Linked DNA regions of Homo sapiens. The protein of the gene in region 1 interacts with the protein of each later gene in a biochemical or structural test. Each region holds a gene or a part of one and is shown in the gene's direction. Other genes may lie near its edges.

Region 1 (3,500 bases):
ATCGGCTTGCCAAAGGATCAGAATGTTACCAAAAGAGCCTTAGTTTAAATCCTTTCCTCTGGTCTCCCTTTGAATCATTATGTGAAATAGGTAGGTGGGTGGGGTTGAGAGGTGGGTGGGTTCCCATCTCCTCTTCTTTTTTTCCTGCTACTTAATTTTTGGAGAGCAATACAGATCATCTACCCCCAAGAAAAATATTTTTCAAAGTTAAAATTGAGAATAAAAAATAAGTTAGAATCTTCGGTATGTTTCAAGAATCATATAACTGAAAATTACACAAAGATTAAATCCAGTAGATTCTTCTGTTGAACCAATCTATTTTCAAGTATCTGGTGTCCTCTAGAATGGGTTATATTGTGTGTTTAACACTAGCAAAATTGCTTTCTGAATAAGAAAATTAATAAAATTTCTAATGCAATTAATAAATGCCTGAAACTTACAAGACCTGAACAGTACAGGGAGAGAATTTCTCAGTATATTTGGCCTAGGATACATAAAGGACCATTTTTCAGCATTGTTGCATCTATGTATATATAGAAGGGCTTCAACCTTTACTGTAAAATATGATGGGTTTTAACTCTTCAACCTCATCTCCTACTTTGAGAAAAATGAGATCTAGTTATTTTCAGCTTTAAAACAAACACAGAAATCTGCATTTTTCTGCGATTTGTTATGTTTAAAATTAGTGTTCTTGTAGTTTATTTTCATTTACAGCTTTATCTTACTGGTAAACTTTTATGATATATTGATAGATGGGTTTTTTGGGGGTAAATTTGATTAGCAGAAGTGGACAGGAGATTTTTAAAGTTTGGATAAGGCCTATTTCCTGTTTCCACTGATTTATGCATACTTGAAAAACATGTATTCCTCACTTCCTCAGAGACAAACTTTTTTTTTTTTTGTCTTCACAGGTGAAAAGCCAGATCCTGACCAAACATTTAAATTCACATCTTTACAGAACTTTAGCAACTGTCTGCCCAACTCTTGCACAACACAAGTACCTAATCATAGTTTATCTCACAGACAGCCTGAGACAGTTCTTACGGAAACACCCCAGGACACAATTGTAAGTGTCTTATATTCTAGTGTTCAAAATATTATGAAAACTACAAAGAATGATCTGAACTAAATAATATATTGTGAATGACTTGGTAGAAATTTTCTGTTTCAGGAATTAAACAGATTGAATTTAGAATCTTCCAATTCAAAGTACTCCTTGAATACAGATTCCTCAGTGTCTTATATTGATTCAGCTGTAATTTCACCTGATACTGTCCCACTGGGAACAGGAACTTCCATATTATCTAAACAGGTTCAAAATAAACCAAAAACTGGTCGAAGTTTATTAGGAGGACCAGCAGCTCTTAGTCCATTAACCCCAAGGTAAGTCAAACAAGATACTTTCAAATGTGCTATAATACCAAATGATCTTATGATAACTCATATTGTTAGTAATGCAGATTATTACAACAGCAACTTCTAAATCACTGTGGAAACAGGGGCATTCTGTTTTCAGAAAATGAAGTAAAAACTGGCAAATAGTGATGTTGCCAGGTGCGGTGGCTCATGCCTGTAATCCCAGCACCTTGGGAGGCCAAGGCAGGCAGATCACCTGAGGTCAGGAGTTCAAGAACAGCCTGGCCAACATGGTGAAACCCTGTCTCTACTAAAAATACAAAAATTAGCTGGGCATGGTGGCGGGCGCCTGTAATCCCAGCTACTCAGGAGGCTGAGACAGGAGAATTGCTTGAACCCGGGAGGCGGAGGTTGTAGTGAGCCGAGATGGAGCCACTACACTCCATCCTGGGCGACAGACCAAGACTCCAACTCAAAAAAAATTGATATTGAATATTGGACTGGCCAGGCGCAGTGGCTCACGCCTGTAATCCCAGCACTTTGGGAGACCAAGGTGGGCAGATCACGAGGTCAGGAGATCGAGACCATCCTGGCCAACATGGCGAAACCCCGTCTCTACTAAAAATACAAAAAACTAGCCGGGTGTGGTGGCACGCGCCTGTAGATCCAGCTACTCGGGAGGCTGAGGCAAGAGAATCACTTGAACCCGGGAGACAGAGGTTGCAGTGAGCCGAGATGGTGTCACTGCACTCCAGCCTGGGAGACAGGGCAAGACTCCATCTCAAAAAAAAAATTGGAGGAAAATTTAAAACTCTGAAATATTCCTTAATTAGGTAGTAAACACATTAAAAAATACTGTCTTTATGGCTGTGCATTAATGGATAGCGGTGAGCCTCATGAAATGTTATAATCAGGGCACCACTGGTTACTGTTAAAGTGCCTTTTTCCAAAACATGGAGGAAATTTGACACCTACCTTTTTTTGTTTGAGACAGGATCTCACTCTGTCACCCAGGTTAGAGTGCAGTGGCACAATCATAGCTCACTGCAGCCTCAAATTCTTGGGCTCAAGCGATCCTCCCACCTCAGACTCCTGAGTAGCTGGGACTGCAGGCACATGCCACCACACCTGGCTAATTTTTTAAGTGTTTTTGTAGAGATGGGGTCTTGCTGTGTTGCCCAAGCTGATCTGGAACTCCTGGCCTCTAGTGATCCTCCTGCTGTGGCCTCCCAAAGTGCTAGGATTACCGTGAGCCACTGAACCTAGCTGTCACACCTATTAATATAAAATATTTTATCAAAATTATTAGAAGTATATGTATGTATAAATACAGGAACTCAGCCCAGAGGATACATATCCAAAAGTATCAAAATGAAAAATTATGTGCTAGAATGGGTTGGGCATGGGGGCTCATGCCTGTAATCCCAGCACTTTGGGAGGCTGAGGTGGGCAGATCACTTGAGACCAGGAGCTCAAGACCAGTCTGGCCAACATGGTGAAACCCTATCTCTACTAAAATTACAAAAATTAGCCCGGCATGGTGACACATACGTGTAATCCCAGGTACTTTGGGGGTTGAGGCACAAGAATCATTTGAACCCAGCAGGTGGAGGTTGCAGTGAGCTGAGATCATGCCACTGCACTCCAGCCTGGGCAACAGAGCGAGACTCTGTCTCAAAAAAATATATACATATATGCTAGAAGAAATTCTATGAATCAGGTCCTGAGGCCGGGGAACTACTAAAATAGCATGACCATGAGATTACAACTCTGGAGAGTTATAGTTATCTAATGGTCTCTAGAGACATTTTCTCTGTAGTTGTGTCTAAATCCCATAAATTCCAAGAATTTGAAGTAATCTCATCATTTGGATCTTAGATTTATAAAGCTACTCTTCTTTATTTCTAATAAATCTCCTGAGATCAGTAATTGTTGCTCAGTTTAGTTCCTTGTTTGATAGCTTTTTAAAATTTTAGTTATGGTGGGTGGAATAGTCTACATTCACAGCTTATTTTTAATCTGCCCCTCAGATCCTCACTGTCCCTAAGACTGATTTGCCATTCTCTTCCTTTTAGACCTTCTAATTTAAGTATACTGCTGCTTTATATATGCCTTGATGACTTTTTGACACCTTGATTTCAACC
Region 2 (3,195 bases), on another chromosome or scaffold:
TCCCCTGCCCAACACCCACCCAGGCTGGGCTGTGGGGTCAGCACCTGGCCGGGCCAGGAGGTGGCCTGTGAGTGACCACCCCCGGGGAGGTGGACGAGTCCCTAATGTTTCCCTCGCTCCCCACCAGGGCCCATGTGTGACCTGCTCTGGTCAGATCCACAGCCACAGGTGAGTCTAGGGTGGGGTGCAGGGCCGGCGGGTGTGGGCTGTGGCAGCAGGTGGAGGCAGACAGTCACCCTGAACCCCTGTCTCTCCCTTCTGCCCACCCTCAGAACGGGCGCTCGATCAGCAAGCGGGGCGTGAGCTGTCAGTTTGGGCCTGACGTCACCAAGGCCTTCTTGGAAGAGAACAACCTGGACTATATCATCCGCAGCCACGAAGTCAAGGCCGAGGGCTACGAGGTGGCTCACGGAGGCCGCTGTGTCACCGTCTTCTCTGCCCCCAACTACTGGTATGTCTTTGCCTTTCCAGCCCAGGGCCTCTACCAAGCCACGGGTTTTTGTCTTGGTTTTTGTTTTGCCTTTTTATGATGGAACATTTCAAAGACAGGCAAGAGCAGATAAAAGAACATGACGAACACCCCCGTATGTGTCACCCACCCATGCAGCACCAGTGGGGCCAGCCTGTGAGTGCTGACCAGCTGCCCTGTGTTACAGCAAGCCCCTGGCACTTCACCTTTCTCCCACTGATTGCCCAGCACTTTTCAGAAGGAAAGGGATCTTTTTCTTAACCACAATATCGTGTTTACACTTTTGAGTGCTGGCTGGGCATGGTGGCTCACGCCTATAATCCCAGCACTTTGGGAGGCCGAGGTGGGCGGATCACCTGAGGTCAGGAGTTTGAGACCAGCCTGGCCAACATGGTGAAACCCCATCTCTACTAAAAATACAAAAATTAGCAGGGCGTGGTGGCACACACCCGTAATCCCAGCTACTCAGGAGGCTGAGTCAGGAGAATTGTTCGAACCCGGGAGGTAGAGGTTGCAGTGAGCTGAGATTGCACCACTGCACTCCAGCCTGGGGAAGAGTAAGACTCCATCTCAAAACACACGCACACGGGCAAGAGTAAGACTCCATCTCAAAACACACACACACACACACACACACACACACACACACACACACACACACACACACACACACACACACACACACACACACACACACACACACACACACACAGTGTTGATCCCTTGCCCCCACCCGAATCCTGCCAAGTTCTCTTTCTCCTGGTCTCTCCTAAGTGTCTTTTCCAGCTGACTTCTTCCAGACAGGACCTAAACAAGGACCACATTTTCAGTCTCTTTGCCTGTGAGTTCCCTGTCTCTCCCCACCCGCATCATTTATTTGTTGAAGAATAGGTTGCTGCCTGCTGTACGAGTCACCTGTGTCCTGGACTAGGCTGACTGCATCCCCGTGGTGCCGTGTGACATGTTCCTCTGTTCCCTGCATCTCTGGGTGGGCAAAGCTAGAAGCGTGGTCAGATTCCTAGTGGGGTCTGGCGAGCATCCACCTCCATGAGCTATGCCCTGCCCCTTCCTGCTCCTGCTTCCTGCACTCCCACCCTCTTTTCCCCATCCCCATCCTCCTGCCCCTCCCATTCTTTCCCCTGGATTCGTCTTTCCCATCTCTGTCTCTCTGTCCATCTGTGTCTGTTGTGGCTCTGTCCCTCCCTCTCCCTCTGTCCCTTCTTGCCCAGCCATTCCTTCTCTTAACCCACCAGCCCCACCCAGCCCTGACCACACTGTCCACTCTGCTCCTGTCCCTGCAGCGACCAGATGGGGAACAAAGCCTCCTACATCCACCTCCAGGGCTCTGACCTACGGCCTCAGTTCCACCAGTTCACAGCAGTGGTGAGTCACCCCTCAGGGCCCCTGCCCCTTCCATCCCGGCCTGGGGACAAGGAGGCTGAGACCCTGGTAAGGGGCAGGGGTAGGTTCTGCCGGTGGGTGCTCAGGGGCTCTGTTCTGACTTCTGTCCATCCCACCTGCCCTGGTCCCACAGCCTCATCCCAACGTCAAGCCCATGGCCTATGCCAACACGCTGCTGCAGCTAGGAATGATGTGAGGTGACGGGCGGGGCGGCCTGCATCCCAGGGCCCCTCCAATCCCACCGGACCCAGGCCCTGGGCTAGGGGCAGAGCAGGCCCCGCCCCAGGGCAATGTTGGACCCCCTTTTACTTTGTAAAGTTTGTATTTATTCCCCTTTAGGTTTGCAGAGGGGGTAGGGGCAGAGTCAGGGGCTGGCCAGAGGGTCTGCTCCCTGGACAGAGAGGAAGGAGGTGGAGCAGCTGGGGCTGGGGGCACAGCCTGGGCATTCTGTGGGGAGGCCGTCCTCGGGGTGGGGTGGGGCCGAGTGGCTGCCCTGCCCCCCTCATTTGCATGGCTCCTCCCCCACTCAAGCAATAGGGCCCCGCCATAGGAAGACCCCCAGAGAGAGGGTCAGCAGGGGGGCCCCGCCTGCGCCTCCCCTCCTATAGCCCCATGGTGGGGCTAGGCTGGGGCTCACCCCCCTCCCCAGCTATTTTATGTCTGTAATTAAATATGTTAAAATAAAGTCATTATCGGAAGTCAGCTTGTCTCTGGATGGTGGAGCCGAAGGAGCTGCCCGGGTTGGGTTACGCCTGCTCAGGAGATCCGGAGGGTGGGGAGGCCGCAAAGTCCCGCTGGCCGGGCCCACCCAGCTCTGGGCTGACCGCCCAAGTGGCCTCTGCCTCTGCCCAGCACCGTGGGCTCCTGGGGAGAGTTCTGCCCCCTGGGTGGGGCGATGAGGCCAGCACTGAGTGGAGCGGAGCGGAAGCTGAGGCATAGCCTCATCCTTTGCTGGCTCCAGCAACAAGCATGACAGTGCCGCTCCCTGCTCCCTGCTCAGGGTAGGCCCAGCAGTGGTTCTTGACATCACACGATGAGGCGCGCATCTCCCGTCATCCAGGGAGACCAGAGGACCCTTGTCTCACTCCCAGTTGGCTCTTAGTCACAGGTAACGTTGGATTCCATTCAGGCTGCCCTGCCAGGCCTTGACCCTCCAGAGAGATTGTGTTTTCAAGTTTGAGCTCCTCTGGACTCAGCTTTCTCCAGTGGTATGTGGCACTGGGGGATGGTCTACAGCAAATGACTCCTGCAGGGCCGAGTCCGGGAGTGTTTGGCCCTTTGGAGACCTCCCAGGCAGACATGAGGCGTCCGCGGTCCTGATTGCG
Region 3 (3,500 bases), on another chromosome or scaffold:
ATTGCAGCACTGTTCACAATAGGCAGATATGAAATCAAACTAAATGTCCATCAACAGATGAATGGATAAAGAAAATGTAGGCCGGGGTCGGGCACAGTGGCTCACACCTCTAATCCCAACACTTTGGGAGGCCAAGGCAGGCAGATCACCTGAGATCGGGAGCTTGAGACCAGCCTGACCAACATGGAGAAACCCCGTCTCTACTAAAAATACAAAATTAGCCGGGTGTGGTGGTGCATGCCTGTAATCCCAGCTACTCAGGAGACTGAGTCAGGAGAATCCCTTGAACCCAGGAGGCAGAGGTTGCAGTGAGCTGAGATTGTGCCATCGCACTCTGGCCTGGGCAACAAGAGTGAAACTCTGTCTCAAAAAAACGAAAGAAAAGAAAATGTAGGCCGGGCACAGTGCCTCATGCCTGTAATCCCAGCACTTTGGGAAGCCGAAGTGGGTGGATCACATGAGGTCAGGAGTTTGAGACCAGCCTGGCCAACATGGTGAAACCCTGTCTCTACTAAAAATACAAAAATTAGCTGGGCATGGTGGCAGGTGCCTGTAGTCCCAGCTACTCGGGAGACTGAAGCAGGAGACTCATTTGAACCCCGGAGGCAGAGGTTGCAGTGAGCCAAGGTCACACCACTGCACTCCAACATGGGCAACAGAGTGAGACTTCATCTCTAATAATAAAAAAAAAGAAAATGTGTATATAGGCTGGGTGCAGTGGCTCAAAATACAAAATTTAGCTGGGCATGGTGGCATGCACCTGTAGTCTTAGCTACTCGGGAGGCTAAGATGGGAGGATTGCTGCCTAAGACGCAGAGGTTGCAGTGAGCTGAGGTCATGCCACTGCACTCCAAACTGGGTGACAGAGCAAGACTCAATCTAAAAAAAAAAGAAAATGTGTATATATACACAGTGGAACAGTATTCAGCAACAGAAGAGAATGAAATCCTGTCATCTGCAGCAACATGGATGAACCCTGAGGACATTATGTTAAGTGAAATAAGTCAGCACAGAAAGGCAAATATTGTATGCTCACTCATGTGGGAGCTAAAAACATGGATCTCATGGAAGTAGAGAGTAGAATGGTGGTTACCAAAGGCTAGGAAGGGTAGAGGGACAGAATGCATAAAGAGGTTGGTTAATGAATACAAAAATCCAGTCAGATTGAATGAATAAGTTCTAGTGTTCAGTTCCACAGTAGTGTTACTATAGTTAATAATTTATTGTGTATTTCAAAATAGCTAGAAGAGATTTGATATGTTTCCAAGACAAAGAAATGATAAATGTTTGAGATAGTGGATATCCCAATTATCTTGGTTTTATCATTGTACATTGTATGCATGAGTCAAAATAGCACAGGTACCCCATAAATATGTACAATTATTATGTGTCAATGAAGAAAAAAGAAAATGTGGTATATATACACAGTGGAATACTATTCAGCCTTTAAAAAGAAGGAAATTCCAGCCAAGCATGGTGGCTCACACCTGTAATCCCAGCACTTTGGGAGACCAATGTGGGTGGATCACTTGAGTCTAAGAGTTCAAGACCAAACCCCATCTCTACAACAAATACAAAAAATTAGCCGGGCACTTTGGCACATGCCGTAGTCCCAGCTACTTGGGAGGCTGAGGTGGGAGGATCTCCTGAGCCCAGCAGTTGGGAGTTGCAGTGAGCCAACATCATGCCACTGCACTCCAGCCTGGGTGACAGAGTGAAACTGTCTTGAGAGAGAGAGACTATTCAGGGAACTCTCTTATTAGGCTATGATGTTTTTCTTTCTTTCTTTCTTTCTTTCTTTTTTTGAGACAGGGTCTCTGTCACTCAGGCTGGAATGCAGTGGTATGATGAGAGACTATTCAGGGAACTCATATTAGGCTATGATGTTTTTCTTTTTCTCTTGGGTTTTTTTTTTTTTTTTTTTTTGAGACAGAGTCTCTGTCACTCAGGCTGAAGTGCAGTGGTATGATCACAGCTCACTACAGTCTTGACCTTTGGGGTTCAAGTAGTTCTCCTACCTCAGCCTCCCGGGTAGCTGAGACTACAGGACTACAGGTCCCCGTCCCCACACCTAATTTTTTTGTATTTTTTGTAGAGATGGGGTTTTGCCATGTTGTCCAGGCTAGTCTCAAACTCCTGGCCTCAAGCAATCCTCATGTCTTGGCCTCCCAAAGTCCTGGGATTACATGTCTGAGCCACCATGCCCGCCTAAGGCTATGACCTTTTTGAGACAAACGTTAAATGTTATAACTACCACCCTTATTCCCAGCTTACCTTTAATAACCTGTTCAGATTTATTATTCATGAGTTTATCTAAATCCTTTCTCATCATATTTATTATGTCAACCTGTACTTCCCTTTCCCTCTTCCTCTCCCTCTTTTCTCTCCCTCTCCCTCTCTCTCTCTTCCTTCCTCCCCTTCCAGGTACCCTAGATGAACCATGGGAGGTCCTGGCTACACAGCCATTCTGTCTGAGAGAGTCTGAGGACTCTGAGACCCAGCCTTTTGACACGCACCTTGAGGCCTATGGACCTTGCCTGTCTCCACCTAGGGCAATACCAGGAGACCAACATCCAGAGAGCCCAGTTCACACAGAGCCAATGGGGATTCAAGGCAGAGGGAGGCAGACTGTGGATAAAGTCATGGGTATACCAAAAGAAACAGCAGAGAGGGTGGGCCCTGAGAGAGGGCCATTGGAGAGAGAAACTGAGAAACTGCTACCAGAAAGACAGACAGATGTGACAGGAGAGGAAGAATTAACCAAGGGGAAACAGGACAGAGAACAAAAACAGTTGTTAGCTAGAGACACCCAGAGACAAGAATCTGACAAAAATGGGGAAAGTGCAAGTCCTGAAAGAGATAGGGAGAGTTTGAAGGTAGAAATTGAGACATCTGAGGAAATACAAGAGAAACAAGTACAGAAGCAGACCCTTCCAAGCAAAGCATTTGAGAGAGAAGTAGAGAGACCAGTAGCAAACAGAGAGTGCGATCCAGCCGAGTTAGAAGAGAAGGTGCCCAAAGTGATCCTGGAGAGAGATACACAGAGAGGGGAGCCAGAGGGAGGGAGCCAGGACCAGAAAGGGCAGGCCTCCAGCCCAACACCAGAGCCTGGGGTGGGGGCGGGGGACCTTCCGGGACCTACCTCAGCCCCCGTACCTTCTGGGAGCCAGTCAGGTGGAAGGGGATCCCCAGTGAGCCCCAGGAGGCATCAGAAAGGTAAGTGAAGGCAGAGGGGAACCCAAGGTGATACACAGGCCTCGTGATAATCAACCCCTGGGCAACCAGCTGCTTGGAACTCAGCCACCTTTGTGTTTACTTTCTGTCTAGGCCTCCTGAATTGCAAGATGCCACCTGCTGAGAAGGCTTCCAGGATCAGAGCTGCTGAGAAGGTTTCCAGGGTGAGAGCTACTTTTTCTACCTCCTATTCCACAAGTCATCTCTATATCTTCTCCAATGCTCTTTCACCTAGCCTCACTTTAATCTATTCCTTTCTCATTATT

Evidence for each region.
Region 2: the proteins of CDC27 (region 1) and PPP5C form a complex in vitro, tested with the Homo sapiens proteins (one study listed by BioGRID).
Region 3: the proteins of CDC27 (region 1) and MDC1 form a complex in vitro, tested with the Homo sapiens proteins (2 studies listed by BioGRID).

What each region holds. Positions count from the first base shown.
Region 1 is NC_000017.11:47,154,796-47,158,295, reverse strand, and holds part of CDC27 (cell division cycle protein 27 homolog), read left to right. Parts: coding exon 1-90; intron 91-911; coding exon 912-1,066; intron 1,067-1,171; coding exon 1,172-1,383; intron 1,384-3,431; exon of another isoform or gene 3,432-3,500. UniProt on the Homo sapiens protein: Component of the anaphase promoting complex/cyclosome (APC/C), a cell cycle-regulated E3 ubiquitin ligase that controls progression through mitosis and the G1 phase of the cell cycle.
Region 2 is NC_000019.10:46,388,281-46,391,475, forward strand, and holds the end of PPP5C (serine/threonine-protein phosphatase 5), read left to right. Parts: intron 1-127; coding exon 128-168; intron 169-272; coding exon 273-451; intron 452-1,770; coding exon 1,771-1,852; intron 1,853-2,003; coding exon 2,004-2,066; 3' UTR 2,067-2,695; downstream 2,696-3,195. UniProt on the Homo sapiens protein: Serine/threonine-protein phosphatase that dephosphorylates a myriad of proteins involved in different signaling pathways including the kinases CSNK1E, ASK1/MAP3K5, PRKDC and RAF1, the nuclear receptors NR3C1, PPARG, ESR1 and ESR2, SMAD proteins and TAU/MAPT.
Region 3 is NC_000006.12:30,707,282-30,710,781, reverse strand, and holds part of MDC1 (mediator of DNA damage checkpoint protein 1), read left to right. Parts: intron 1-2,424; coding exon 2,425-3,216; intron 3,217-3,327; coding exon 3,328-3,398; intron 3,399-3,500. UniProt on the Homo sapiens protein: Histone reader protein required for checkpoint-mediated cell cycle arrest in response to DNA damage within both the S phase and G2/M phases of the cell cycle.